7 linked regions of the Homo sapiens genome follow. The protein of the gene in region 6 purifies or fractionates together with the protein of the main gene of each other region. This does not show direct contact. Each region holds a gene or a part of one and is shown on either strand. Other genes may lie near its edges. The genes, in order: CTBS, BDH1, SLC25A14, DECR2, CLN6, TMPRSS5 and TUBB6.

Region 1 (4,787 bases), on a different chromosome or scaffold from region 6:
GCTGGTCTCAAACTCCTGAGCTCAAGTGATCTGCCCACCTCGGCCTCCCACAGTGCCGGGATTACAAGCATGAACCACTGTGCCCAGCCCAAATTACTTATTTCTTCTTATTTGTACTACGCTGCTTCTCAAGCACCTTTAAGAATTATTTATTTCATCCCCTCTGTACTGCGTTTTCCAATTTTCTTATCTTTCAGAGTTTTTGCTCTACATTCCTCAGTGTTATCTTCTACTAATAGTTTTTTCACTTCTTTCTTATTTCTATTAACTTTTAAAAATCCCCTACCCCTTTTATTGCACCCTGTTGTGGCTTCATCTTCTCTTATTTTTCTGGGGCTATTATGAGAATTTTTAAAAGTGTTCTCCCTGCAGCATCTGCTTCCTCCATATTCCTTTGTCTGTTGTTTGGGTCCCTTCTTTCTACATTATTGGATTTTTTTGGTTGCTGTCCATGATTAAAAGTAAAAATTAAAAAGTACAAAGAGAGGAAGCTCCAAGTAGATAGCTGGTGCTTTTAACTTTGAATTTCACTGTAGGGTGATCTGGGTGTATGATTTGTCCAGAAAACCCGATGTCAGTATCTTTGCTCAGCCTCTTAGGTTAATCAGATAGCGAGGGGTTTCAGTTTTCAGTAGGCATAAAGCCACTTATTCTCCGTTTTAGGTGGAATACCCACTCAGCAGAGAATTTATCCCCTTCAGGGAATTCAGCCGGGGTGGGAGCCCGTGGTGGGAAAGAGGGGCAGCTGCCCAGAGACATGAAGCTGGAAAAAGGATCTAGCGATCAGAGTCCTTGAGCAGCCTTTGACTAATCTCCCCCTTTTCCGATTTACCTCTCATACTCATACTTGTGCTCTCCAGCTTCCAACATTTTGTTGCTGTTATCTCTTTGTCCTTGTGTTTAGGTTGTTAAACTTGATTTTTAACAGGAGAGTAGGCAAAATTAGATGCTTGAATTCAAACCACGATCTTAACTAAGACCTGATATCCGTAAGTAAAAATTTTTGGTATTCCAGCTTTCTTTTGAGTAGCAAAAGAAAAACAAAGTCTTTTGGCCACTCCAACCATGTTACTCAGTAGGCCCTTCCAAAGACACCCACTTCTCCATTTTGGGGATCCCCTTGTACCTTCAGACTCCACAAGGAGTACACGACCAGCCACGACAAAACGAGATGCAGACTATTGGGAGGACTATAAACGGTAGGGGTGATACCCATTTGAGTCCACGAACGGCCCTCTCGGCGCCGCAGACACTGGCTGTCCCCCGAGACGCTCCAGCAGCCACTTAACTTCACCCACCTGTAGCGCCCGGGGACGCTCGAAGCCCGACCTCCCACGCCCGCCCCGGAGCCCCGCCCCTCCCGCCCCTCCCCGCCCTTCCCGACTCTCCCCGCCCCTTCCTGCCCCGACGCGCAGCAGGCCCCGCCCACCCAGGCGGTAGGAACCCACTCCGGCCCGCTAGACCTGCTGCTATGTCCCGGCCGCAGCTTCGACGCTGGCGCCTCGTCTCTAGCCCGCCGAGCGGCGTCCCGGGTCTAGCGCTGCTGGCGCTGCTGGCGCTGCTGGCGCTGCGGCTCGCGGCCGGGACCGACTGCCCATGCCCGGAGCCTGAGCTCTGCCGCCCGATTCGCCACCATCCAGATTTCGAGGTCAGCGCCTTCCTCTGCTCCTCTAGGTCTGGGCTTCAGGGCACGAAGAGAAGTTAGGGTAGAACGGAGCCCTAAGGAGAGGTGCCGTGGGCGCCGAAACCAGCTTTGACCACTCGATGAGGGCCTTCCTGTTTACGGATCCTTCAATTTATAGATGAGGAAGCTCGGGCTCAGAGAAGTTGAGTAACTCCTCAGGCCTCACAGCCTGTAAGTGCCTGCGTAGGCAGGCGAGAGTTCAAACCAGATCTGCCTCCTAAGGCAAGCTCCTTTCATTCCCCTGCTGTGCCTCTGCGGAAGCACTCTGGGTGTAAAAAGCAAACAAGGTAGGATAATCCATTTATGTTTCCAAGGAACGAGGATTTCGTTTGAAAGAATCTCAGCACTCCAACAGTACATTAGAATGCAGAGTATTTTGCTTACCTTTAGTTTTCTATACCTGCTAGCCCTTTCCTTTAAAGTACCTCAAAACCACCCATGAAGAGTGGTAAAAAAAATAGCTTTCAGTACATTTTCCTTCTATCTACATAACAATTTGTAAGGCTTCTGGCAACTTTAATCAAACACCTTCTGGAGCAATATTAAAACCACCTGACTGCCCACTTCGATGACTGAAAGCAGGAATTGGATGACATCAGGAAGGTCCAAAGGCTTAATTCAAAGAACGATTCTTTTGTAGAAATAGGCATGATTCCTAGTTCTTAATCTAGTACATTAATCTGAGGCAGAACACTTAGATGCCAGTAAAAAAGTATATATACATGACTTAGGAGAAGAAATAAAAATGGTGAAAGTGTTTATGGAGAACCTGCCTAGTGTGGAAACCTAACATCTTATTAAAAGAAAGACTTCAGACAAAGTAGGATAACCTTTTTTATTTGAGCAAAGAACAACTTATGAATCGGCAGTACTTAAACCAGAAGGGGTTCAGAGAGGTCTGCTTTAGTAGCATGGGCTTTTATAGGCCGAACAGGGAAGCAAAGGAAAATAATTACTTGGTTGGCTATGACTGTTTGCCTTATTTAGCTATGACTTGGTGGAAAATTACTAGTTAGAGGTTAGTTGGCAGTTTCTGATAGGTTAAGCTTAAGTTTCCTTTCACTGTTGACCTTGGGCTGGAGTTTGCTTAAGCAGGAAATCCAAGGCAGTTGGAGCTGTTTCAGCATAATGGCCTCCCAATTAAAATGTTTTATACAATCTGAGGCCCAGCGCGGTGGTAGAGGCAGTGGGGACAGTAGCTGTAAAAGTTCAACCAGACATTTCTTAATTTTCTCAATCTCTTTTTGAGATTGAGAAGCACTTTGTGAGGCCAAGGTGGGTGGATCACTTGAGGTCAGGAATTCGAGAACAGCCTGGCCAACATGGTGAAACCCCGTCTCTACTAAAAATACAAAAATTAGCTGGGCGTGGTGGCGGGCACATGTAATCCGAACTACTTGGGAGGCTGAGGCAGGAGAACCGCTTGAACCTGGGAGGCGGAGCGGGAGGCGGAAGGTTGCAGTTAGCCAAGATCACGCCACTGCACTCCAGCCTGGGCGACAGAGCAAGACTATGTCTCAAAAAAGAGAAAAAAAAAAAACCTGAAAGATTTACTGTAGTACCCAATACTTAGTGGGTTAGGCAATATCTGTGGGCACTTTGAAAACCAACTATTCAAAGAAGCAAAATTATGCTTATTTGTATCTTCATGGTAAATGGTCTTTTTCTCTACTGGCGTTTTCTATGTTTTTCAAACACAAAAACTAGACTACATGGCATTTTCCCCTTATATTTTCAATTAGTTCACCCAGCTTTTTTTTTTTTTAAGGATATCTGTTATATCACAGGCTCTTAGTATTTTTTAAACAAATAGAATCTTAATTATCAGAACTAAAATAGAAGTTTTGATAGAAATATGAGTCAGAAAACAATGGGCCACTTAATTTCACATTATGAATTTTTATTATTTCAGTAGGCAATTGCTTAGCAGAAAAAATGAGTTATGCATAATTAATTCTGAAAAGTTAAAAAAAATTAAAAAAAATTAAGAAATGCCTGGTTTAACTTTTACAGCTGCTATCCCCACTGTCTCTCCCTCATTCATTCCCCTCACAAGGACCCAGTGATCTCTTTTGTAATGCATATCCCCTGAATTAAAACTCTAATTGATTCCCACTGATCCCAAGATAAAATACAACATCTTCAGTGGTCTTGGAAGTCCTACTTAATCTTTCCACTACCGACTTTAAAGGTTTTATCCAGTTCCACATACTTGCAGGATTTCTGTGCTCTACCTACATTGACCTTTTTCAGTTCCAGAATCTCAGAATTCTCCTGAGGTGTAGCGACCTTTGGGCTTTCCCTTCCCTCAGTTGAGAATGCAATCTTTTGTCCATAGGTATATCTCTTCCATCATTCTGCTGATTTCAGCCCACTCCGAAAGTGTGTAGTCCTCAGAAAAGTTTTCGTGCACCATCTGGCTAGCAGGTCCCCTTTATATGCTGGCGTGGCCCCCTGTAACCCCTACAGTCCTTAATACCATTGTAATTAAGTAGTTAACTCCTTACTGGACCTGGTCTCTCTCATTAATCTTTATCTCCTTAGAGCCTAGCAAAATACTCTCCTTGTACCTTATTGGAAATTCAATAAATATTTGCCAAATCAATGAATTAATGCCTTGGAATAAAATAAAAATAATCAGTGAGGCTTCTGTGCTTCTTGAATTAACTGTGGGAAGAAAATATCAGAGAAACACAACATCAGGTGCCTTAGAATTTGACCTAGGTACTATTCTAAGAAGCTAGCTTCACCAAACAAACAAAAAACAGTAAATGTATTTATGGCTCCATCTGCAGTAGCCAGAAACTTGAGTATTATCAGACTTCTCTCCTTTGATTACTCATTCGATTAGTCACAAAGTCCTGTCAATTTTGCCTCCTTAGGATCTTCCAGATCTGTTCACTTAACGCCACTGCTCCACAATTTTAGTTGAGGTCACCATCATCTCTTACTTGGATTCCTCCAACAGTTTCTGTATTCTGCCTCCAGTTTTGGTGTCTCTTTAATCCTTTTCCCACTGCAGCTGAAAATATTTTTCTAAAATGCATACCTTCCCCTTTTAAAAATGCTTTTATTCTCTCCCTTTACCTCAGGATAAACAAGG
Region 2 (4,849 bases), on a different chromosome or scaffold from region 6:
GAAGCTCACAGAATGGACAGACAGAGCCAACAGTTTTATTTGTTTGTTTGTTTTTTGAGACAGTCTCCCACTGTTGCCCAGGCTGGAATGCAGTGGCACCATCTCAGCTCACTGCAACCTCTGCCTCCCAGGCTTAAGCAATTCTTCTGCCTCAGCCTCCCACCTAGCTGGGATTACAAGCATCCACTACGAAGGGCAGGGTTTCACCACATTGGCCAGGCTGGTCTCAAACTCCTGGCCTAAAGTGATCCACCCGCCTCAGCCTCCTACAGTGCTGGGATTATAGGCGTGAGCCACCGCACCCGGTCTACAGTTTTCTTTAAATCTTCATCATGCCAGTACTTCCCTCCTCCTGTTTTCATCTTCCTGTATTTGCAAGTTTCATTCATTCTCTTCATTCTATTCATTCCTTCTCTGTACTTTACCTAAACATAGTTGTGAACCCCCAAAATCTGAGCCAGATCAATTTAGGAAGTTTATTTTCCCAAAGTTAAGAATGCACGCAAGTGAAATGGCCTCAGGAAGTCCTGACATGTGCCTAAGGTGGTTGGGACACAGCTCGGTTTTATACATTTTAGGGAGACATGAGACATCAATCAACATATGTAAGATGAACATTGGCTCAGTCTGGAAAGGTGGGACAACTCGAAGCAAGGAGGGAGCCCCCAGGTTATAGGTAGATGAGAGACAAATGGTCGCATTCTTTCGAGTTTCTGATGAGCCTCTCCAAAGGGGGAATCAGATATGCATTTATCTCAGTGAGCAGGGGGTGATTTTGAGTAGAATGGGGGCAGGTTGGCCCTAAGCCGTTCCCAGCTTGACTTTCCCCTTTAGCCTAGTGATTTGGGGGCCCCAAGGTTTATTTTCCTTTCGCGTAGCTTCGCCACTAATGTGTCCTGGTGTCTTCTCTCCTCAGCCTGTTTCTCATCCTGGAAACTGAGGTGTGCTGGCGCAGGGCGATAGCGCAGTGGGGTGGGGTTGGGAGGAAACCCTTATCTGTGGCCGATGGCCCTCCGTTGTTCTATTATTAAAACTCTGGGAAACTGCTATTCTTAATTTATTTTTAAAGACCCTGAGAAGCAAATCTTTAATTTTTTTGTTTTTGTGAGACGGAGCACTCTGTCGCCCAGGCTAGAGTGCAATGGTGCAATCTCGGCTCACTGGAACCTCCGCCTCCTGGGTTCAAGCGATTCTCCTGCCTCAGCCTCCCGAGTAGCTGGGATTACAGGCGTGCGCCACCGCGCCCTGCTAACTTTTGTATTTTTAGTAGAGACTGGTTTTCACCATGTTGGCCAGGCTGGTCTCGAACTCCTGACCCCAAGTGATCCACCTGCCTCAGCCTCCCAAAGTGCTGGAATTACAGGCGTGAGCCACCGCCCCCGGCCTTTAAATAAATTCATCTGATCAAAAGAAATTTAAAAACCAACCAACCCTAATGAGCTCTAAAGACAGCAACACGCACAGGACCTGGAAAGAGCCTCTTCCTCACCGGAGTTTTCCTCACTTCAAGGAGCGGCGCCTTCACCCTCCGGCCTCAGCCCGCGAGGCTGCAACCCTTTCCGCACCTGGCTCCATCTCCCTGGCCCTCGCCCCCGCCCAGCGGTCGGGGAGCGAGAAGGCGGCGGGGGATCTGGCGCCCGGCTTAGGGGCGAGACGGCCGCACCGGGAGCCTAGCGATCAGGGCACCTTGGGCGGGAGGAGCGCCAGCCGGGCACCCAGCGCGGAGGAGGCGGCTCGGCGGCCCCCCGACAGCCACGCCGCCGTGAGCCCCGCCCAGCGTAGCCCCAGCGCGCGCTTCGCGTGTAGAAGCGTCCGGGTGGCGGAGGCCGCAGGCCGCAGGAGTGCTGGTGGAGGGGCTTCCAGAAAGACCCTGCGGCAGCGCCCCCCCTCGGCTCTCCCCGCAGGAGAGCGGGCACCTGCGCGGCGCCGGGTGAAGGCGAGAGCCTCGGCGAGCCCTCTGCAGCGGAGCCCCCTGCCCATTTGGTTTTGGGTAAGAGGAGGGGTCCGCGTCTCTGCAGCTCGGGCGGGATTCCCTGGCGCCCTCTACTCGGTTTGGTTCGGCCTCACGTGTTCCTTTAGCTCCGAAGCCGGGATACGGGTGGGGAAGGGGGGCTCGCGCCCTACAGGCCGAGCCCTGCGGCCGCAGCGGGGTAAGGGTAGGATGGCCGATCGCGCCCAGACCCCAGGGAGTCTCCCTCTCGGCTTTTCTGCCGGCGTCTCCAGCAGCATGATCTGGCATTTATTATTCGGAATAATGTGCCAGGCAGGAGGAGGCCCTGGGTTAAACACGCGGCCCTGCAGCTCCCAGGTGAAACGACTCATCGTTTCCTGCCGGCGCATCTTACTGAAGGGGACCCAGGCCCCACGAAGGGAAGGAACCGTCCTCAAGGTCACGTCGTAGTCAAAGGCCGAGCCCAGACCGAAGCCAGGTGTCCTGCCTTCTAGCCCCGGGCTCTAGGCCCTGTCCCCTTCCCGACCGAATCTCCCAGTCCCGTCCGCGTCCCTCCTCCTCCTCCTCCTCCGGGGTCCTCCGCAAGGCTCTGTTCCCGGGGTTTGGGGAGTCCTCCCTCCGCGCCACAGCGCCCTGGGGAAGAATGCTGGACAGCAGGCAGGCCACAGGGCCGGGGAAGGAGGAGGAGCCGCGGGGACAGGCTGGGGATGCCAGAGTGGTGGTGGGCCCGGGACTGGCCAGGGTGGGAGTCCAGGCGGCGCACCCGCGCGAGGACAAGGGGGCTTTGGCTGGGCGGTGCTGTCTCAACCAATGGGAAGCGTGGCTCTGGCCGAGCCCCCCTCTCTCCCCGCCCTCCGGCCGGCCGTTGGGGAGCGCTGCTCTGGGATTGGCTGCGCCGCCGTCTCGGGCGTTCTCGCGCTCTGCTTACGTGCTGACGCGCGCCTGATAGATACCCTGTGGGTTTGAGCGCTCCGGTCGGTCCCTAGCGGCCCAGGCGCCTTGGGCGTGCGTCCTGCGCGCGGCCGCCTCCAGGCTGCGCCCTTCTGGGGAAGTGTTTGGTGCTGCGCGCGGCGTCGAACTCCGCGTTTTTTTTTTTTCTTTTCCAGCCAGTCAGCCTGGAAATCTGCCTGTAGTCAGCTGATGCAGAGTCACCCTGCAGTTCCTACTTTGAGGGGTTGCAGAAGCACATATTTCACTATGGAGGGCCGCCTGCAGGCCTCGCGCTGACAGGATCTTTTGTGACGCTGCAAATGTCCTGGTCAGTGTCCTTCTTTCTACAAGAGGCGTTGGAGCCGGGCTCTGCATAGGGCGTATATATCCCTGGCCGCCAAGGAAGCTGACCCTTGAAATTTGTGAAGCTTTCATATTCACTCAATACACATTTACAGAGCCTCTACTTCCTGTCAGGCGTCACACAATAAATATTCGGAGGAGCAAGAAGAGAGTGATTCAACATTTGGGTCTTGTCTGTAGGGTGCTCACAGTCCGGGTGGGGATTGGTGGTAGGATGGGGGCTTGTGAATGTTTATAAACAGAAATCCCTCGAATACGACCCTGGCTAGGTAGGTGCAGTTACAGAGGCACAGAAGGGAGGAGATTGGGCGAAAGATTTTTGAATTAGGGGATTAGAAAAGGCTGCTCGGGAGAGTTATCTGAACCAGCTAGGACTTGGTCAGATGCAGTCAGTTTGGTATAGGATGAGCAAGGCTCGAAAATTGGAAAGTACAGGGCTTGTTGAGGGATGGTGTAGCAAACGGTTGAATGAGTAGAGGAGAAAAGTATAGTTGGAGATACGGTTTGGAGGAGCCAGGTGAGGACTCGGGGGCTCAGCTTGTGTCCTCGGGTTTGAAATGCAGTAAGCACTTGTGAATAGAAAGGCTGCTTAATCATTTGCACTACTGTCATTTGTTACACCTAGACCAAACATCTTGGAAATGGCTTTGATTCTTCCTTCTTTCATATCCTACACTCAATCTGTTGGTAAATGGTAGCGGACTCTACCTTCAATATAAAGCCAGACTTACCAATTCTAATCAGTTCCATGGTTTTCACCAAGGCTGGTGTACATTTCTAAGGAACACGTTTTCACATCTCACTGCAGTGGTGCAATATACAACCCTCATGACTGCACATGGTGGCCCTGGATTACTGCCACAGATCCTAATGGGTCTCCCTGCTTCTGCTCTAGTCCATCCTCAACTTATTAACCCAGTGAGAGTTACCTTTTTAAAAATGTAAGTCTGATAATGGCACTCCTCTTCTTAAAACTCTTCTTTTTTTTTTTTTTTTTTTGAGACAGAGTCTTGCTCTGTTGCCAGGCTGGAGTGCAGTGGCGTGATCTCGGCTCACTGCAATCTCCACCTCCTGGGTTCAAGTAATTCTCCTGCCTCAGCCTCCCAAGTAGCTGGGACTACAGGCGCGAGCGACCACACCCAGCTAATTTTTGTATTTTTAGTAGAGACGGGGTTTCACCATGTTGGCCAGGATGGTCTCGATCTCTTGACCTCGTGATCTGCCCACCTCGGCCTCCCAAAGTGCTGGGATTACAGGCGTGAGCCACCACACCCAGCCAAAACTCTCTTAATTCATTTAATTATGTACCAGCCAGGCGTGGTGGCACACACCTGTAATCTCAGCACTTTGGGAGGCCGAGGTGGGCAGATCATTTGAGGTTAGGAGTTTGAGACCAGCCGGGCCAACATGGTGAAACTCCGTCTCTACTAAAAATACAAAAATTAGCCAGGCATGGCGGTGCATGCTTGTAACCCCAGTTACTTGGGAGGCTGAGGCAGGAGGATTGCTTGAACCTGAGAGGTGGAGGTTGCAGTGAGCCAAGATTGCACCCCTGCACTCCAGCCTGGGTAACAGAACGAGATTCCATCTCAATGAATCAATCAA
Region 3 (3,707 bases), on a different chromosome or scaffold from region 6:
GTCAAAACTTCGAAGCAACCAAGATGTCCTTCAGTGGGTGAATGAATAAACTGGTACATCCAGACAATAGAGTATTATTCAGTGCTAAAAAGAAATGAACTATCAAGCCACGAAAAGACATGGAGGAACCTTAAATGCATATAAGTAAGTTAAAAAAAAAAAAGCCAATCTGAAAAGTATGATTCCAACTATATGACATTCTGGAAAAGGCAAAACCATGGAGACAGTAAAAAGCCTCAGTAGTTGCCAGAGGTTAGGCGAGAGGAAGGAACGAATAAGAGGAACATAGAGGATTTTTAGGGCAGTGAGACCATTCTATATGATTCTATAATGATAGATACATATTACACATTTGTCAAAATGTATAATGCCTTATCCTCATGGTGACATAGACTCTTCCTCTGTCTCACCTCGAGTGTCATTTGTGCTATGAAGCCTTTGGCAAATCCTCTAGGTAAGGCTGTTCCTCCTCTGTGCTCCCACACAGCATTTTGTTCATCTCTCACATAGTACTTAGGTCCTACTGTAATTATTTACTTACAAATCTGTTCTTCCACTATGATGTGAGCTTGAAAACAGACACTATGTCTTAGTCATTTTATAGTCCTAGACATAATAGATACATAATAAATGTTGAACAAATTAATGAATGGATAAAGATGAAGAACTATTAATTCCACAAATATTTGAGTGCCTACAATGAGCCGGGCTCTGTTTCAGTACAAAAAAAGTAGCCAGAACTTTGTACCTGTAAGATGATTAGAACCCTGGGAACAGGCTTCTATTTTAAGCCTTTTTTTAGCTTTTTACCTGTAGGAACTTCCAAATGAGCCACTTGCTTGTTTATTCATGTTTAAGAAAGAACCACCTGCCCAACGTTTAGCAGTGGCATTATGACAATGAATGGCAGTGGGAAAGCACAATGCACTCATTCTCGTCTCATAAAAGTGCACTTTAAGAGTCCAGTCTCAATTTCATAGTTATCTTCCTTTATTATTCTCTGGAGAATGTAACTTCAAGAGTTGGCAAAGGAGAAAATAGTAAATGAAGACAAAGCCAAAGTGATTCTGCCAATAAATACTTTAATGAGAACCGAGGTCTGTAACACATATAGCAATAACCACCCTGGCCTATGCCTTCTGCTCTAGCCCAAGTCTGGGGCTAACCAATTACATTTAACCACATTTGGAAAGCAGGCCGTTTTCAATGTCACCCATCAGTATCCATCTTCATAGAAGATACCAATCTGGGGCCAGAGTCTCAATGTTAACACTTTCTCTCGGGGAAAAGTTAACATGGTAACACAAACATAGAAATAACTTTGAACCACCCCACTGTTCTTCCATCAGGAGGCCCTTAGGAGACCAACGGCTTGGTAAACACTTACAACATTGTCAAAATACATTAGAACACGGGAAAAGGGCAAAGGAGTAGAAAGGCTGGCAGGGCTGGGCTCACATATAATTCAGTTCTTAGATTTGAAGCCTCTTTAGCTGCTCGTATGTAATAAAAAACTGAGGAGTAAGTCAAGGAAGATCACCAGGTTGATATCGAAAGCCAAAGCTAGTTCTAAAATTAGCATCGCATTCTCTTAAATTAAGGTAGTCTATGCTATTCCAAGCTGCATCTGCTTTAAAATCTTTTCTAAAACACCACCTGACAGCCGGGCGCGGTGGCTCACGCCTGTAATCCCAGCACTTTGAGAGGCCGAGGTGGGTGGATCACGAGGTCAGGAGATCGAGACCATCCTGGCTGACATGGTGAAACCCTGTCTCTACTAAAAATACAAAAAATTAGCCGGGTGTGGTGGCGGGTGCCTGTAGTCCCAGCTACTCGGGAGGCTGAGGCAGGAGAATGGCGTGAACTCAGGAGGTGGAGTTTGCAGTGAGCCGAGATCGCGCCACTGCACTCCAGCCTGGGCGAGAGAGCAAGACTCCATCTCAAAAAAAAAAATAAAAATAAATAAATAAATAAATAAAACACCACCTGTCAAATCAAGCATGCATTGAGTGCCTACCATGTGCCCATTCAGATCACTGGCATCGAACAACATAAACAGAGTAAAACTCTAATATATTTATAGTCTTCAGGGGGAAACAGGACAAACGCACACACGCACACACACACAGTAACCAAGAACATCAGTGACGACATATAATTAATTAGATGATCAGAGTGATTCCAAGAGGGAACGAGATACCCTCTCTCTGTCTACAGACCCCACAAGGGCAGAGAATTACTTTCCAACCCTGCGGTGCTTACCATTATACACACAACACCACACACAGTATCCAATACATGGCTCTGCACTTAGGAGGCACTCAAACACAACTGGAGGAGACAGATTCACCCATGAAGAAAGAAGCCTGCTTGGCTGTGGATTCCTTCACCCCATGAATGTCTTCTGTCCTGTTTTTATTTCCCAGCTATTTTGGTCCTATAGTTAGGGGTAGGAAATCTGAACCACCTCAGCATGGACTTTCCTGTAGGCTTCGTCCATCAGGGTTTCTAAAAACTTCATAGCCCCTTCCAGATTAGCTGTGTTTGTTGTCATTTTGTTTTAAAGAGTAAAGTTTGACATATCTTTTCTATCCCTTTTAGTTTGTATTAGCCTCCAACTGAAAGCTGTTTCTTTGCTTAATTTGATTCTCAAGGGTCACCAATGGGATGCTTGAGTTTCTCACTAGCCTAAAAGGCTTTAATAATCAAATTTTCCTTCCCATAGCCTAGAATTATCTGGGAGCTTGAAGCACTTGCTTTCATTCTCTCAAAGGATACAATGATGTTCCAGGGTCCAAGCCGAAGCCAGTTTGGCCAAAATCCTTTATAGAGTGCAAAAAAGCCCTCATGTTTCCACATCTGCAGGAAAGATATAACCAAAAACAGAGTGAATTCACCTTTCTCTACATTTGACATCACCTTCCACTCCCACCCCAGGGCAACTTATGGCTCCATGAATAGTCTTTTCTCTAAAGGTCCATTTTAAATTCATCTGTAGTCTAAATCCATCCACCCACTTAATCAATAAATATTTACCTACCATACATATGCAAAGCACCATTCTTGATGTTGAGAATATACTAATAAACAAGACAGAAAAAGTGTCTATGGTAGCCAGCCTCCAAGATGGCCCCCAATGAACCCTACCTCCAGTTATTTGTACCCTTGCGTAGCCTCCACCCCATAGTATTTGGTCTGTGTCACCAACAGAATATGGTAGTAGTGAACATATGTCACTTCCATAGCTAGGTTATAAAATATATTTTATATATAATAAAGCATCTGCCTTATTCTCTCTTGGATTCATTCACTCTAGAGGAAACCATCTGCTATATCATGAAGAGAGGACTACATGGTGAGGAACTGAGGGCTCCAGCCAACAACTGCATGAGTGATCACTGAAGCAGCTATCCCAGCCTGTCAAGGCTTTAGATGGCAGCAACCCTAGTTGCCATATGAACTACAACCTCAGGAGACAGCCTAAGCCAGAATCAACTCAGCTAAGCTGCTTTGCAATCCCTGGCCCACAGAAACTGCAAAATAACAAATGGTTTAAGGCAATGAGTTTTGGAGTAATTTGTTACACAGCAATAGGTAACCTATACAGCAGTTTCTACCCTCATGGAGTGCATATTCTAGTGGGGCTGACAAATACACAAATTGATATATATTATATCCAAAAATAAGTGCCACAAAGAGAACTAAAG
Region 4 (4,268 bases), on a different chromosome or scaffold from region 6:
GGAGTTTCAGAACTTAGTAGCCGGCTGAGGACGGCTTCCCCCTAAAACACCTCGGCTGCCTCGGCCACCCAGCACCTGCCAGAAATGCCGGCAGAGGCCGAGGCCGCTACAGAAGAGCAAGTACACCAGCGCCCGCCTCCTGCTCAGCCCCACTGGGCAGCACCCATGTGTGGGCAGGCTGGCGCAGGGGCCGGGAGGATGGGGACAAAGGAGACGCCAGCCCCGTGGGTCCCGCAGAGACCTGCCCATGCAGTGACCAGCGTCCAAGGACACAGATGACCCCAAGAAGCGGGAGCAGTACCTCACCTAGAGCTTAGCAGAGAAGGATGCGAAATCCGGCAGCCCTTTGACACCGTTTGGGAACGTCAACCATGCCCCGCCATCGGCCACCAGCACGGCCCCCGTCACGTAGGAAGCCAGAGGGCTGGCCAGGTAGAGCACGCTGTGGGCGATCTCGGTCTTGTTCCCCAGCCTCTGCAGCGGGCTGGCAGTGACCTTGGTGCTCAGGCTGGCCTGAGGGCCACCTGGAGGGCAGCAGAAGGCTCAGGCCCCGTGAGCCCCAAGACCCAGCACCCTCCCCTCTCCCCCAGCTCATTCCCTGAGAGGCATCTGGGAACAGCAAGGACACAGTCAGTGTCACCAAGGCCTAGCATGGAGCAGGATCAGGCCAGGCACAGAACATAGTTGCCACCATGGAACCAGCACAGGGCTTTTCAACATACACCCTGCCAAGGTTCTGGAAGCTTCATGGGCACCCTGTGCCCCAGGAGAGGATCTGTGGGAGGCCTGGGCTCCCTGAGAGCCTTACCCAGTCGCCGGAGCCCCTCTGTGCCACTGATGGGGCCAGGGGCGAGGCTGTTGACGCGGATGTTTTGGGGACCCCACTCCACAGCCAAGTGCCGCGTCATCGCGTCTGCACAGAAGAAAGTTGGATATGAAAGGGCCGCTCTGCCCTCTGCGAGGGCGCAGGGCCAAGGCCAGGTCTCGCTGCCTGCAGCTGGGCTCAGCTTCAAGTGGAGACTGCTGGCCTCCTGGGATGGAAGCAGACGGCCCATTGGGGACCCACGTGGGCAAACCTGGGCGGGGGGGGGTGGTCATACCCACAGCGGCCTTGGCGGAGCCTGCATGCACCTGGAGCGCCTGCCCCCGGTTCCCCAGGGTGGCAGTGATGTTCACGATCACCCCTCCGTGGTCCTGCAACACACAAGGCCCGGGGCAGTGAGCGGGCGGGTGTCGGGGGAGGTCACAGGACAGTGAGCGGGTGGCTGTCAGGGGGAGGCCCGGGGCAGGGAGCGGGCGGCCGTCAGGGGGAGGCCCAGGGCAGGGAGCGGGCGGCCGTCATGGGGAGGCCCAGGGCAGGGAGCGGGCGGCCGTCAGGGGGAGGCCCCCGCTGGGAGTACACCCACCCGGAAGAACTTCTCACAGAGCGCACAAGGCACCCACCCGGAAGAACTTCTCACAGAGCGCACGAGGCACCCACCCGGAAGAACTTCTCACAGAGCGCACGAGGCACCCACCCGGAAGAACTTCTCATAGAGCACACGAGACACATTGAAGGTGCCGCTGGTATCGATGTCCATCACGGTCTTGAAGGCGTTGAAGGACAAGGCGCCAGCGGGGCACAGGAAGTTCCCGGCCGCACCTGCAGAATGGGAGACCGCAGGAGCTGCTGGAGCCTGGGGAGAGGGATGCCAAGTGGGTGGTGGCCAGGTGGGCAGAGCGGAGGGTGCAGGAGGGAGCCCAGGTGCCCTGTGGCACAGGGAGGAGACCCATGCCCTAGGATAAATTCCAAAATGACCAGAGCAAGACGGGCGTCCTGGCTGCACTGTGTCCCCGAGAAGAGAAGACATGCTGAAGCCCTGGCTCCGTACCTGCGACTGTGGCCTTGTTTGGAAATGGGGTGGGTTGCAGAGATAATCGAATTACACTGAAGTCACAACGAATTAGGGTGAGCCCTAAATCCAATGACCAGCATCCTTATAACAAGGGAAGAGGACACACAGACACACGCCACGGGAAGACAGTGGCAGACAGTGCAGCGACGGTCTCCGAGCCCGGGAGGGCCAAGGGCTATGGCAGTACCCGAAGCCACGCAGAAGGCAGGAAGAGGCTCTCCCCTGGGGCCTTCAGAGAGCATAGCTCTGCCGACGCCTTCCCCTTGGACGTTCTGGCCTCCAGAACTGGGAGATTATATTTCGGTTGTTTTACCCACACAGGTCGTAGTACTCTGTTAGCCCAGGAAACTAATACACAGGATGTTTTTAAAAGGGAATTTCTGCAGAGTGAAACCAGTGTTGGTTCATCAATTGTAACAAACGCAAGATGTTAACAGGGAAAACTGTAGGTGGGAGTATGGAATTCCATATACTATTAATTATTCTATAAACCTAAAACTGTGATTTAAAAAAAAAAATCGGCCAGGCGTGGTGGCTCACGCCTGTAATCCCAGCACTTTGGGAGGCTGAGGCGGGCGGATCACGAGGTCAGGAGATCGAGACCATCCTGGCTAACATGGTGAAACCCCATCTCTAGTAAAAATACAAAAAGTTAGCCAGGCGTGGTGGCAGGCACCTGTAGTCCCAGCTACTGGGGGACTGAGGCAGGAGAATGGCATGAACCCGGGAGGCGGAGCTTGCAGTGAGCCAAGATTGCGCCACTGCACTCCAGCCTGGGCGACACAGCAAGACTCTCTCAAAAAATAAAAATAAAAATCAATAAAAATAAAAAATAAAGAAATAAAAATAAAAGCTGGGGGCCAGGCGCGGCGGCTCACGCCTGTAATCCCAGCACTTTCGGAAGCCAAGGCGGGCGGATCACCTGAGATCAAGAGTTCGAGACCAGTCTAAACAATATGATGAAACCCCATCTCTATTAAAAATACAAAAATTAGCCAGGTGTGGTAGCGGGCGCCTGTAATCCCAGCTACTTGGGAGGCTGAGACGGGAGAATTGCTTGAACCCGGGAGGCGGAGGGTGCTGTAAGCTGAGATTGTACCATGGTACTCCAGCCTGGGCAACAAGAGCGAAACTCCCTCTAAAAAAAAAAAAAAAGCTAGGCCAGGCTAGCTTCTATTTTATTGATGACTCTTGCTTGTAATCCCAGCATTTTGGGAGGCCAAGGCAGGAAGATTGCTTGAGCCTAGGAGTTTGAGACTGGCCTGAGCAACACACACTAAGACCCTGTCTCTACAAAAAATAAAAAATATAAAAATTAGCCAGGCGTGATGGCACACGTCTGTAGTCCCAGCTCCTCAGGAGGCTGGGGCAGGAGGATGGCTTGAGCCCAGAAGGTGGAGGCTGCAGTAAGCCATGATCACACCAGCCTGGGTGACAGAGTGAGATGCTGTCTAAAAAAAAAAAAAAGGCTATTACTTTTTTTTTTAAAGACGGAATTTCAGGACACAAGGGCACCCGACTCTACCATTGAGCTGTGTTCATGGCGTCCACTTGGGCTGCAGCTGTGCTGACCTGCTGCCACCCAGAGAAGCGGAGTCAGGCCGGAGACAGAGGGCCAGAGACAGAAGGCGGGACACAAAGGCCTGGAGACAGAGGGCCAGAGACAGAGGGCCAGAGACAGAAGCCCGGAGACAGGGGGCCGGAGATGGGGCCGGAGACAGAGGCCCAGAGACAGGGGGCCGGAGACAGAGGCCCGGAGACAGAGGCCCGGAGACAGGGGGCCGGAGACAGGGGGCCGGAGACAGAGGCCCGGAGACAGAGGCCCGGAGACAGGGGGCCGGAGACAGAGGCCCGGAGACAGGGGCCCGGAGACAGAGGTCCGGAGACAGGGGGCTGGAGACAGGGGCCCGGAGACAGGGGCCCGGAGACAGAGGGCCGGAGACAGAGGCCCGGAGACAGGGGCCCGGAGACAGGGGGCCGGAGACAGAGGCCCGGAGACAGGGGCCCGGAGACAGGGGGCCGGAGACAGAGGCCTGGAGACAGGGGCCCGGAGACAGGGGGCCGGAGATGGGGCCGGAGACAGAGGCCCGGAGACAGGGGGCCGGAGATGGGGCCGGAGAGAGACGCCCGGAGACAGAGGCCCAGAGACAGGGGGCCGGAGATGCGGCCGAAGACAGAGGCCCGGAGACAGAGCCCGGAGACAGAGGCCCGGAGACAGGGGCCCGGAGACAGGGGGCCGGAGATGGGGCCGGAGACAGGGGGCCGGAGCCTGAGTCTTGGCCTCAGGTACCTGGATGGGGTGCAGCCCACCCCAGCACAGGCAGCTAGGTTCCCTGGCATGGTCCCCACCCCATGACCAGAGTTCTAGGGCCT
Region 5 (3,887 bases), on a different chromosome or scaffold from region 6:
ATGGGCACCGGGGCTCGCAGGCTTGGGGCTCGGTATTGCAGGGATACAAGCTTCGGTGCTCTCAGGCTGGGATTCAGTCCTCCCCGTCTGCTGACTTGCTGAGTGACTGGCGAATCATTCTACCTCAGTCTGTGCCTCAGTTTCCTCACCAGCTGAATTACAGGGCAGCTGGCAAAATCAAGTGGCCAGCGCACAGCCGGTTCCCATCCTGTGCCAGTTCAGTTCCCACCTTCTGAGGACTTTAAGGGTGGTGGAGGGGCCTGAGCCGGGTCTCCAGCCCCACCACAGGCTCCTCGGGGGCTTGGAGTGAGGCCTCTTAGTGCCGGTTACCCTGGCCAGGAAGGCTCCCCTTTTCTTCCTTCCCTTCCTCTCTCCACCCTCAGCCCCACCCCTTCCGCAGAAGCTGCTGACGCTCCCAAGTCTTCAGGAGTTCGTGCTGCTCCCCTCCCCCACATAGGAGGAAATGGGGGCAGGGTGTGAGGCCTCCCCAGCTTCTTCCCCTTGAGATCCCATTTCCCTGTTTGGGGCGTGAGGCTTTTGTCCACAGCTGAGTCTATGAGGCTCTACAAGTAGGTGTGGCTGCACAGGTGTGCCCTACACAAAGGCCCCCAGCCCAGGTGCGAGTGGTTGCTGGCCAGGGGCTGCACTGCCAATAGGAAGGGGGGCATTGTGCCACTTTGCACACAGGCGCATAGACGGGAGGCGCTGCCTGTGCCCCACTCTCCCCTCCCCGCTCCTTTCCTGACCGCCTCTGTGTGGAAAGTGTGCTTTTCTCCCAAATCACATCCCCAGAATCGCTTTACACCTGTTTCTAGACCCAGAGAATTTTAGCTGGGGACTCCGACTCCTCCCTGTCAGAGTTTGAGGCTCCCCCTCCCAAACCCCATGGCAGGGATAAGAGGAGGGAAGGCTGCCTCTGTGCAGAGGATGGAGAGAAGGACATCAAGGAAAGTCACTTGGGACTCTGGAAGCCTGAAGGCGGCCAGGCCAACATGCTCCCTCTGAATCCCCTTGCCTGTGGGAAGGGGCTCCAGAAGAGATGAGGTGCCTCCTTGGAGTTAGGCCAGTGTGTGCTGGGGTGCCCCGGCCAACTCCCTCCTTATGTGTGTAGGTGTCTCCGGGGGTGACGCACAGATGGAAAACACCAGCGTGGGGCAATGGCTGCGTGAGGGTTCACGATACAGCAACTCACCATGCTGTAGGGCGCACCGTGTGTGCTACACCTCAGCACGAAAGGGAGAAAAGACAAAAAACACCTCTAACACCACTTGGGGCTGTGACTGTATTTACTTCATTCTTGAATCCCGCGTCCCCGTGGCTGGGGGCTGACACATCCCTGGGCACCACTGTGACTTCCTGTGGGTCCCTTCCCTTCTGTCCCTGACTCTGTAGACCCCCCACAGGAAGGGTCCTAGGTAGGGGGAGGTTCCTCCTCCCTTGAAACCCTGGGCCACTCTGTCAAGGCAAAGCCTCTGGGCCCAGCACCTTGTAAAGGCTTTGATGAGAGGAGCTCTGGCTTTTGCTCAGGGCCTTTGGCACCCCACCCTCCAGCCCCCAGGAATGCAGGCGCTCAAAGCCTGTGGCTAGGCTGCCCGAAGCGCGTGCCGCAGTTCTTCTGGAGTGGGAGCAGGGGGACAGAGCTTTGGGTAGAGGAGGGTCACCTGCAAAGCTGGAATGCCAGGGGAGTGGGCGGTGCCTCCAGCTCCTGGGGGCCAGGGTGTCTCCATACCTCATGGGCCTGAGCCTGGGCAGGGGTCTGGAGTGCACATAGCCCCCAGGCAGGGAGAGGGCAGTGACAGGACAGAGCCACTCATCTGTCCCAAAGCTGCACCCAAGGGGTGTCAGCAACCCCAACCTACTGACCTACTTTGGGACCACAGGCCCATCTAGTGCAAATGAGGCCCAGAAAGGAGAAATGCTTTGCTCAACAGCCACAGTAGGCTGACGTAACCTATGTAATGTAGGGTCAGGGTGGGCCTGAGGGATGAGCCAGGTGGTGGGCAGGTGACACACCAGGTCCCCTCCTGGCCTCTGCCCCACCCAGCCCTCTCCTGCACGGCTACCAGAAGATGTCCGGGAAGAACAGACTAGCCCTGAGTAGGGAGTGTGGTCAGGTGCAGAGGAGGGCAGGGGCCCGGATCCTGGCCCAGAAACACTCTAAAACAGAATCCGATCCTGAGATGATCCAAATCAAACAGAAACTTGACGGAAATAGTAGAGTCTGAAAATGATGCACTCTGCGCACACATATACAAGACACACACACACACACACACGAATCCACGCACACGAGGCACACCCCACTCATGCTCTCGGTCTCTGGTTACACACCCACACCCCCCCTACTCCTGTATTCAGATGCCCTCCATGGCCCACCCTCCCACCCAGCAGAGCGCCAGAGCCTGGTGCCAGGGACTCAGTGCCGACTGCTGACGTGAAGGGTGTAGAAAGCCCAGGGCTCAGGGACGTAGATGACACCCGGGTACTTCTTCCTGAGAACAGGGTCATTCCACAGCCAGGCGACCCAGAGCGCCACAAGCAAGAGGGTCAGTGCGAAGGAGGAGAAGAGGAAGAGGCCGTTGCTGTCCAGGAAGAGGCGCTTGCGCTTCTGGTGCAGGACGAGGGCCAGCATGGCGAAGAAGGTGAAGATGAAGAGGATGAAGATCTGGCCCTCGGTGACCAGGTACCTGGAAAGGCCAGGGGTGAGTGAGGCAGCTGCCGTGGCAACCCCGTCCTGCCTGGCATCCCTTCCTGTGTGCGAGAGCCAGGCTGCCCTCCAGGCAGGCAGAAGAGTCCTCTGGTGCCAGGGCTCAGAGAACTATGCCGCTCTAAGCCACAGCCCATGGGCAGCATATTGATTTAGCTGGTATAGTTACTGTTTTTTAAATGTTGAGTTTGTTGCCAATATTTAAATAACAGAATACCTACAAATGTATATTTCTGGCTTCTCTGGTCACATTAAGTTTATACTTCCACACAACAAAAACTGACTAGAGGAGAAAGCAACAAACAATTGCCATTACGACGGCAGCCACCCCCGCGGCAGGATGCCGGGGTAAGAACCAGCAGGAAGCGCTCCCCTAACGTCTTTCCCGCTCACTGTAGCTGCCACCCATTCTTTTTAATCCCCAGAGAGCATACAGATGAGCCCCAGTGGGCCATCTCAGCCACATAGGGGACAGGCCGGGGAGAGGATCTAGAGCTGGCCCAGGAAAGGAGGCCCTTTTCATTTTGAGGGAGGCCTCCCATCAGAGAAGGGTCCAGTCCTGCCCCGACCCTGTCCTTCCCATGATACCCACAATCCCAGGGTGACCTGTCTCCAGGGCAGAAGTGACAGACGAGGGCTAGGAGACTGGCTGAGGCCTAAGTCCTCTGCAATGGGAAGAAGAGAGAGCCAGAGGGAACAAAGACCCAAGGCCAGAAGCCCCTACGCCATGAAACCCCCCAGTCTGGCCTCGCCATAGTGCTTTACATTTGACAAAGCCCCTCTCTGTCCTCAGCATCCTCATCATCTGAGAGGCAGACAGGCAGGTACCATCATCCCCACTTCACAGAGGTGGAAACCGCAGCCCACTACAGGGCTTGGTGTCGGAGGTGGATTGTACCGGCCCCAGGGCAACACTGGGGTTCTTGAGATGGGGCACAGAGCGAGAGGGGCTTGAGGATGGAGACAGACTGTGCAACCTCGCCCTCTCCTCCCACCTCCCTGCCACACCCAGGCCTGGGCTTCATGGAAACAAAGAGGCCACCACAGGGCATTGTCACAGTCCCCACTAGACACAAGAAGAAGCACGGGCCCAAAGAGGGCCAGTCTCCCTGGGGCCACACAGCAGGTCCATTGGCAAGTGCAGAATTTTGCTGCCGTGGCTCTCTCAGTGCCCCTGCCT
Region 6 (4,268 bases):
TGGACAGTTCTTAAGGCTGTCATGTAGCCACAGCCTGAAGAATACCACCATTTCCTTCCTGCCCCCACCCAAACACTCAGACCCCTCCTCATCAGTGGTCCCCAGGACAGGAGCACACCTCCTGCCTAGTCTCCCAGAGGGCAACAGAAGGACTTCATGGTCCTTGCAGATCAACTGGGACATAGTGTGTTTACAGATGAGAAAGCCACACTGTTCCCACTAAGTGTCCTGAATGAATACACACTCAATGAATGAATGAACGGATAGGTGAGTGTGTGGGTGACTAGGGTTCTTCACCCCATGCTCCTTCCTAGGTTTGCTGTATTCTCCACCCTGGTCCCTCTGCCTGGGCTTTGCATATTCATATTCTTGCTCTCCTCTTTCCCCTCTTCTCTCTTAGCTCTTAGTTCCTTTTTTGACCAAAACTCTCTTCTCTTTCTTTACTCACCTCTTGCCCCTAGCAGTCCAATGTCTAGACCCTCTTAGTTTCTCCTAGTTTCCCAAATCCATAGCCCTCCCGGCTCTCCTGGAGGAGTCAGCCCCACCCCTACTTCCATTTTCCCATTCAGGTATCCAAGACAAGAACCCTGTCAGAACCTTCCCAACTCCAGCCACATTCCTGAGCACAGGAGCTGGACAGGAGGGGCCTGAAGGAACAGTTCAAATTGGAAATGTGGTAATGGGGGTGCCCACCTTTCTATCCCAGGAGGCTGATAGGCAGATTGAGGAAGCCTAGGAAGGCACAAAGACCCTCTCCGCTTGTGCCCCAGTCATACCAAACCATCCCCAGGATCTGGGGAAGGGGCTGCTCCATTCCACAGCCCTCTTCTCTAGGAGACTCTCCAGACTACAAGCAACTCTTAGCCAGAGCAACTCAACCATCTCTTTCCTGAAATATCCGAATTATCCAAATAATGTGTGGCAGGATTCAGAGAGCACTTAGCTTGGAGACAGGAGCCTGGTTTCAAGGCTTGACTTAGCTGCTTATTACTTATGTGACCTTGGACAAGACTCTTTAACCTTATTAAGCCTCAGTTTCCTAACCTGTAAAATGGTGATGAGTACCATGTCAAATCTTGTGACAATAATAACCAACCCTACATTTCTTGTGAAGGGCAAATAGCAGATGTGAAGTGGTGACAGACAGGGCTCATGTGAACTGAGTTTGTAATTTCTAACTAGGAAATGTTCCTCTTTGTCCTCCTATCATAGGCCACCAGTGTCCTCCCCACCGGCATCCCAAGAAAGGAGATTTTTGCTGGATTGACCACCAGGAAGTAAGGGACCCCACTCACCTAACAGCCTCAGTAGTCCTACCTGGGCTGCCACGCCTCCTCCAGGAAGCCTCCCAGTCTAGGAGAGAGCTGAGCAAACTCCTGGGAACTGTTGAGTTTGATGTCAGTGAGGTTTACTCCCTTGTGGTGAGTGAGTCTTGGCAGAAGAAGGGAATAGAACAGGAGGAAATCATAACTGGAATATGTACGAGATATAATACTAGTATAGTGACCGCAAGACTGTGATAATGATTACTGCTGGGGTTTATGCTTGTTAAAAAGCAGTAATACTCCAAACAGAGAAATGGGCTGGGGCACCATTGTGCCCAGAGGCCAGAAGATGGCCAAAAAGACCTCTTGACATTTCCTGAGCACATTGACCAGTGACGGGCAGGTAGAGGTCTCCAATTCCCATCCCACACCAGCCAGGCCTCCCCCTTCACAGGACCCACATCTAACTCCTGTTACCTGAGATGCCCAAGGCTCCAGCAGATCTGCAGCCCCAGGGCGGGGCTCCAGCCCTCATGGCAGACCAGGAGCCAGCGTGGCTGATCCCTCACTTGCGCTTCCAGCAAGAAGTCTTCGCTGTTTATTCTGAAAGATACTGAAATCACAGCATGAAAACCACATGGGAGAGGATGGTGGTGGTAGGGTGGGACAGGAAGAGCTGGACCCAGGATTCTGTAGTACTTGAAGAGGCCTTAATGACAGCATCTGGATCACCCAGTGCCAAGTTCCCTGCTCCCCGGAGAGTGAGACCAGTCCCAAGAGCAGTATCACCCCTTTTGGTAGAGCATTTCAGTTTTCTATTTTAACCATGTGTTTTTAAGCGTGGTCTACCATTCATTGTCACAGCAGCCCTGTGCAATGAGTACTGCCATCCTCTCCATTCTGCAGAAGGAGAACTAAGGCATGGAGTTTAAGCAACTTCCCCAAGATCACAGTGTCAGGAAATGATGGATCCAGGACTTAGATCCAGGTCTTCTGATTTCAAATCTTGTGATAATAATAATTACCAGTTGTTGAGTGTATGCTTTTTCCAGGCTATTATGGACTGACTCATGTCCCCGCCCCCAAACACACACACACAAATTCATATGTTAAAGCCCCAACCCTCAATGTGACTGTATTTGGAGACAGGGCCTTTAAGAAGGTGATTAAGGTTAAATGAGGTCACGAGGGTGACGCCCTGATCCAATAGAGCCAGTGTCCTTATAAGAAGAGGAAGAGACACCAGAGAGCTCCCTCTCTCCTCAAGAGCAGAGGAAAGGCCCGGGGAGTACACAGGCAGAAGACAGCCATCTACAATCCAGGAAAAGAGCTCTCTCCTGAAACCGAATTCCACAGCACCTTGATCTTGGACTTCTAGCCACCAGAACGGTGAGAAAATAAATGTGGTTTAAACCACCCGGTCTGTGGTACTTAGTCATGGCAAACCAAACAGACTACTACACAAGTTCTGTGCTGATATCTTTTCTTAGATTAGTTTGTTTTATCCTTAAACAATTTGTGCAGTAAATATTTATATTTCCATTTTATGGAGAAGGAAACAGAAGCAACAAGAAGTAATGTGCCCAAAGTCACACAGTCAAAGACAGACTCCAACCTTATTCTAATGAGGTTATTCTAAGCCCCAGCCTCTGGACAGCATTGTACCTTCTGATCCCCAACTCTTACCTGGAGGGGAGGGGACAATCAGGAGAGGGAGAGTGGGGATGAGGTGGGCTGATGTTCCCAGGTCCCTAGGTGGCCCTGCTGGTCACACACTGGCTCCCACACACACACACCTGATCCCTCCTCCCCCATGTCCCTGGCTCACTCTGCCCCAAATGGCAAGTTTCCATCCCTCCTGCCAGCCTGGTCTCCGGACCTTGCCCCAGCTAGAGATCAGGACAGTCCTCAGGCAGTGCTGAAAGCCCCAAATCAGAGATCACTGCAAGGTGACACCTTGTCACTGCCCTCACACTAGAGGAGGGAAACACATATGGTTGGCAGTGAACAGATGGCCCTTCAGTGTCGGTTCTCTTGCCCTCAGCTGTGACAGGTCCCTGCTGGGGAGGGAGGCCCGTAGCCTTAGGGGTGCAGCCCACCTGTTTTGGGAAGTGCAGGGAGCAGAGCTTCCTCAGCGCTGGCCTCTGAGCAGCTCAAAGTTATCTCCTCATCCTGCAAGGTCCCGGAAATGGGCTGAGAGGCAGCAGGACACAGATACAGCACTTTAGAGAAGAACAAAGAGAAAGGGTCTGATTTCCAAAGGAAGGTGTCAAGGTGCTGACCTCCTCATCAGCCACCTTGCTCTCAGGCAGCTCCCCAACCAACCTGCTGAGGAGGGGCATAGCGCTCCATCTCTCTCGGCCTCAGCCTCTATCTCTGCCTCTTTGACTCTCCTTTGTCTGTCTGTCTCTCTCTCTCTCTCTCTCTCTCTCTCTCTCTCTCTCTCTCTCTCTCTCTCTCTCTCTCCCTCTCTCTCTCTCTCTCTCTGTCTCTCTCTCTCTCTAGCTGTCTCTCAGTATGTCTCTGTCTCTGTCTGTGTGTGTTCTCTCTGTGTCTCTCTCACTGGGAAAGATTTCCAGAAAAAGTCTGACTACGGCCTCCTTGGATCATACACTTTGTTCTTCTTTATGTAGAGCCTAGATCCCTCCTGCTGCAATTTCACCCTTTCTCCCCTTGTCTGCACAGAGTAGTTGAGGAAGACAGTTGTCCCATTTACCTTTAACACCTGCTCAGCACCTGCTTCTCCCTTCCAACCTCCCCCACACCAGAGAAAGGCCCCCAGCACTGACCTAGGAGCCATGAGCCAACACCTGCACCGGCCAGCAGCCCCAGGGCTCCCAGCACTGCACAGCCACGTCGCATGGAACGCCAGCACACTGCCTGAGAAACTGTGGGAAAGGGCAGAGGGGTATCTGGGTCCCCTGCTCCTGCCAGCCTGCCTTACTTCACCCTAAGTCACCACTATGGGGCTAGGCACCCACAGAGCTCCAACAGGACACCTCC
Region 7 (4,268 bases), on a different chromosome or scaffold from region 6:
TTACAGGTGCTGCCACCACACCCGGCTAATTTTTGTATTTTTTAGTAGAGAGAGGGTTTCACCACGTTGGCCAGGCTGGTCTTGAACTCCTGACCTCAAGTGATCCGCCCACCTCGGCCTCCCAAAGTGCTGGGATTACAGGCATGAGCCACCGCACCTGGCCAACAACTCAATGTTGAAGAAAGCAGAATTGGAAACGACCTAACTTGCAGGTCATGACATTTTACATCAGTCATTCTTTTCTTGTTTCTGAATGTAAACCAAAAAGGCTTAACCAAGACTTACTAAATACACTCTCACTCTTTCACTTTAAGGCAATTTATTCCAGTATACTTAGAGTTGGGAAAATTGAAATACTAATTTCTAATATGACTTTGTCAATTTAATTTTTAATAAAATGTTTTAAATATTTATTTTCATGAAATTTTGGGCTGCAGATTTAACTAATTCAAGTCATAAAAACTTGCATTGCATTATACAGACCTCTCCCCACTTACTCCAACTTGACTTTTGTCTACACACGGCTGGTGGCAACAATTCACAGCCACTGCCAAAGACCAGCCTCTCTGGTTTCACGTGGGCAGGTCCATCCCTGATGCTGCACTCACCCTGGGGGCACTGAACTATGAAGCAGTGAAACCACCAAGGCTGCCTCTGAGAGCTGCCAAGTGCTACATCGGGTAAGCAAGCTGCCTTTCACTTGTCAATCTTTAATTAGTGGACAAGGGGCTCCCATGCAATTTGGGACACGGGCCTGCTCACAATGAGGTCTACTGATGGCACCCCTGGCTTCTGCAGTACATAACAAGTGCAGCCTTACACAGTGGCTCTACTCTTGGGGGGGATGAAGCATTTATCAGTGCTACACACTGTAGGTGTTCAGTGCAAGAAAAAACAAATTCTGTGATTCTTCATTAAGTGTACTGAACTTAATGTTAAAATGTATGTACTGGACTGTTAATAACTCATATCACATATAAAGGATACCCTCCTTCAATATCTAAAGAAGTCCTTAAATCAGTAAGAAAAACAACAGCCATTAGGAAAACAGGCAAAGGCTATAAACATACAGCTCACAGGAAAGGAAATTCCAATAGCTTAGGTACTGGAAATAATGCTAAACCCTTCTCATAAGGGAAACGCAAATTAAAACAAGGAGATTCTATTTTTCTGCTGTGAAACTGACAGAGATCCAAACACCTGAGTTGCACTGCTGAGGGTTTGGGGAAGGCCACTTCCCACGGGAGCTACTGGAGATAGCAAGGGCAGTGGGCTGTAGAACAGCTGAGCTACAGCTATCAAAATTATCCCCCTAGACACAGCAATTACACTTCTGTAAGTTTTTCTAGATAGACCCATACATGTGCAAAATGACATATATACAAATGTTTACTGAGGAACAATTTATAATAATAAAAAGGGGAACAACCCAAATACCTATCAACTGAAGACTGGTTAAATCCACGGCGGTATCTCTGCAGAGGATACTATCAGCCATCAACAGGAATGAGGCAGCCATACTTGTGAAATGGAAAGATCTTCAAAATACGTTGCTGGGGAGCCAGGGAGGAACACTAGGGTACTAAACAGTGTATACAGCTGGCTCCATTGTATGTGTGTAAATATATGCGTCTGCCTGAACATACCTGAAAGGACATTCAAGAATCTTAACACTAGTTCGGGGTAGGAAGGAGATCAACTTTTCACTATATACCCTTTTGTTCCTTTTAAGTCCTAAACCATGAAAATGTTTTACCTAGCTAGCTAGCAAAATGAAAAAAAAAATTACTTTATTAAAACATTTACAATGCAATTAAGAAAGCACAGGTTGTCTTTGAAGGATGGGGTCCTAAGAGAGTTCATTTCTAGCTTTATGACATTTTAACTAAAACATTTATTTTATGATAAGTGAATATTAAAGTATAAAAAAGGAATTTTTTATTATTATTATTTTAGAAATGGGGTCTTCCACTGCTACCCAGGCTGGAGTGCAGTGGTGCAATCATAGCCACTGCAGCCTCCAACTCCTGGGCTCAAGGGATCCTCCTGCCTCAGCCTCCTGAGTAGCTGGGACAATTAAAAAAACATTTTTTTGGCTGGGCACGGTGGCTCACGCTTGTAATCTTAGCACTTTGGGAGGCCGAGGCGGGTGGATCACGAGGTCAGGAGATTGAGACCATCCTCGCTAACATGGTGAAACCCCGTCTCTACCAAAAATATAAAAAAAATTAGCATGGCATGGTGGCGGGCGCCTGTAGTCCCAGCTACTCCGGAGGCTGAGGCAGGAGAATGGCGTGAACCCGGGAGGTGGAGCTTGCAATGAGCTAAGATCGCACCACTGCACTCCACCCTGGGCGACAGAGTGAGACTCCGTCAAAAAAAAGAAAAATTTTGTAGAGAGGGTCCCCTTATGTTGTCCATGTTGGTCTTAAACTTTTGAACTCAAGTGATCATCCTGTCTTGGCCTCCCAAAGTGCTGGGATGGCAGGTGTGAACGCCTGAGCCCAGCTCTTCTTTAATGAAAAATTTTAAAATGTCATCAGTAAGTGGGAAATTACTAAATGATGACATATACAATGGTAGGCACTGTGACTGTCACGGAGGATGTCTGAGATACATTAATGAATTTTTCAAAAGGCTGCAAAATGGTGTGTATAGCAGGATCCCATTTTCCCCAGACAAAATCAGCTCTGTGTGCTCACCTAGGTGCACATGGACACAGAAAAATGTCAGCAGGGCCGGGCGCGGTGGCTCACACCTGTAATCCCAGTACTTTTGGGAGGCCGAGACAGGAGGATCACCTGAGGTCAGGAGTTCGAGACCAGCCTGGCCAATATGGGGAAACCCCATCTCTACTAAAAATACAAAAAATTAGCTGGGTGTGGTGGCAGGTGCCTGTAATCCCAGCTACTCCAGAGGCTGAGGCAGGAGAATTGCTTGAACCCAGGAGGTGGAGGTTGCAGTGAGCCGAGATTGCGCCATTGCACTCCAGCCTGGGCAACAAGAGCGAAACTCCGTCTCAAAAAAAAAAAGAAAAAAAAAAAAAAGGAAAAAGGAAAAATGTCAGCAGGACACAGCACAACTGTCTACACACTCGGTTATCCCCCTAGGGAATAAAACCTCAGGGGCCACCAGTAGAAGGGATGACAGCTTTCCCTTTCTGCACTGTATACACAATCTATGTGTACTGTTTGAAAAAACCATGTACAAGCACTTTGTTTTAACTTTGACATGAAAACATTAAACACTTTTTTTTGTATAAGACCAGCTATGGGAGCTCACACCTGCAATCCTAGCACAGGAGGGTGAAGTGGGAGGACTGCTTGAGCCCAGGAGTTTGAGGCTACAGTGAGCTATGATCACACCACTGCACTCCAGCCTGGGTGACAAGGCGAGACCCCATCTCAAACAAACAAACAAACAAAACCACACATTTAAATATTGAACACTGAAGTTTCCAGAGAGCAGAACTGGCCAGCTGAAACTGACCACAGAGGGCCCTTGCACTTGTCTGCAGCATCAGCCTCCCTAGATCTCCGTCTCAGTCCCACTGAGAAATCAGCTCAGCCTTTCTCTCCTATTGTCTTTGCCCCATTTGGCAGTCCAAAGCCCAGTGTCACTGGCATGGCAGGCCCTATGGCTCTGCAGAGGGGCCGGGCTAGGCAGATGCCTGCTGTGTGCTTGCAGCACACCCCGTGGGCCTGGCCACTTTAGTACTCTCAGGTGGCCGTTTCCTTGTGTTTTTCACAAGCCGTAGACAGCATCTAGTATGTGACTGTTCTCTTACAAACAGGGGATTCTCTTCTTCCTGCCCAGCTGTGTTGCACAGTGAATCCTAGCTGACTGCCTTCTCTTAGTAGGCGAGAAAATGGTCACCGTCCTTCCTAAGCCCCCACCAACTTCTCTCCACCCCTTCCCCACCCAACCTAGCAGGCAGCACCTGGCAAAACTACAACATAGGTATTGGGAGGAACAAGCTCGGGGCTGGTCCACACTCGGTGCTAGAACTGTCACATTTTACAAAGGAAAGACCCAGGGCAGCTGTCAAAATAGCCTGGGACCTATTTCATTAAAATAGCAGAAACCAACAACTGAAAATAGTAGGTGGCTTTTGGCAAACATAGAACCCCAATCAATCAGACCTGAGCTAGCTGTAAGTGGACGGAGATGCTGAACTTGACTCCCTCTGCAGCTCACACCATTTACCCAGCTTCCTCAATATTTATAGCATGAATAGCCATGAAGTTTTCTGTGCTCTTGATGAAAGG

The links.
Region 1: the proteins of TMPRSS5 (region 6) and CTBS purify together in Homo sapiens (affinity purification with mass spectrometry; one large-scale study listed by BioGRID and IntAct). This does not show direct contact.
Region 2: the proteins of TMPRSS5 (region 6) and BDH1 purify together in Homo sapiens (affinity purification with mass spectrometry, with the first as the bait; one large-scale study listed by BioGRID). This does not show direct contact.
Region 3: the proteins of TMPRSS5 (region 6) and SLC25A14 purify together in Homo sapiens (affinity purification with mass spectrometry; one large-scale study listed by BioGRID and IntAct). This does not show direct contact.
Region 4: the proteins of TMPRSS5 (region 6) and DECR2 purify together in Homo sapiens (affinity purification with mass spectrometry; one large-scale study listed by BioGRID and IntAct). This does not show direct contact.
Region 5: the proteins of TMPRSS5 (region 6) and CLN6 purify together in Homo sapiens (affinity purification with mass spectrometry; one large-scale study listed by BioGRID and IntAct). This does not show direct contact.
Region 7: the proteins of TMPRSS5 (region 6) and TUBB6 purify together in Homo sapiens (affinity purification with mass spectrometry; one large-scale study listed by BioGRID and IntAct). This does not show direct contact.

What each region holds. Positions count from the first base shown.
Region 1 is NC_000001.11:84,571,100-84,575,886, reverse strand, and holds the start of CTBS (di-N-acetylchitobiase precursor), read left to right. Parts: upstream 1-1,446; 5' UTR 1,447-1,471; coding exon 1,472-1,648; intron 1,649-4,787. UniProt on the Homo sapiens protein: Involved in the degradation of asparagine-linked glycoproteins. Hydrolyze of N-acetyl-beta-D-glucosamine (1-4)N-acetylglucosamine chitobiose core from the reducing end of the bond, it requires prior cleavage by glycosylasparaginase.
Region 2 is NC_000003.12:197,552,922-197,557,770, reverse strand, and holds the start of BDH1 (D-beta-hydroxybutyrate dehydrogenase, mitochondrial precursor), read left to right. Parts: upstream 1-1,802; 5' UTR 1,803-1,990; intron 1,991-2,263; exon of another isoform or gene 2,264-2,429; intron 2,430-3,057; 5' UTR 3,058-3,209; intron 3,210-4,849.
Region 3 is NC_000023.11:130,370,716-130,374,422, reverse strand, and holds the end of SLC25A14 (brain mitochondrial carrier protein 1 isoform 1 precursor), read right to left. Parts: intron 2,860-3,707; coding exon 2,779-2,859; intron 1,515-2,778; coding exon 1,473-1,514; 3' UTR 1,066-1,472; downstream 1-1,065. UniProt on the Homo sapiens protein: Transports inorganic anions (sulfate, sulfite, thiosulfate and phosphate) and, to a lesser extent, a variety of dicarboxylates (e.g. malonate, malate and citramalate) and, even more so, aspartate and glutamate and tricarboxylates.
Region 4 is NC_000016.10:407,617-411,884, reverse strand, and holds part of DECR2 (peroxisomal 2,4-dienoyl-CoA reductase [(3E)-enoyl-CoA-producing]), read right to left. Parts: intron 1,643-4,268; coding exon 1,518-1,642; intron 1,195-1,517; coding exon 1,101-1,194; intron 914-1,100; coding exon 809-913; intron 525-808; coding exon 307-524; intron 1-306.
Region 5 is NC_000015.10:68,205,724-68,209,610, forward strand, and holds the end of CLN6 (ceroid-lipofuscinosis neuronal protein 6), read right to left. Parts: intron 2,688-3,887; coding exon 2,417-2,687; 3' UTR 1,269-2,416; downstream 1-1,268.
Region 6 is NC_000011.10:113,695,541-113,699,808, forward strand, and holds part of TMPRSS5 (transmembrane protease serine 5), read right to left. Parts: intron 4,154-4,268; coding exon 4,055-4,153; intron 3,488-4,054; coding exon 3,365-3,487; intron 1,879-3,364; coding exon 1,743-1,878; intron 1,432-1,742; coding exon 1,318-1,431; intron 1-1,317. UniProt on the Homo sapiens protein: May play a role in hearing.
Region 7 is NC_000018.10:12,317,914-12,322,181, reverse strand, and holds part of TUBB6 (tubulin beta-6 chain), read right to left. Parts: intron 1,647-4,268; exon of another isoform or gene 1,520-1,646; coding exon of another isoform or gene 1,438-1,519; intron 1-1,437. UniProt on the Homo sapiens protein: Tubulin is the major constituent of microtubules, a cylinder consisting of laterally associated linear protofilaments composed of alpha- and beta-tubulin heterodimers.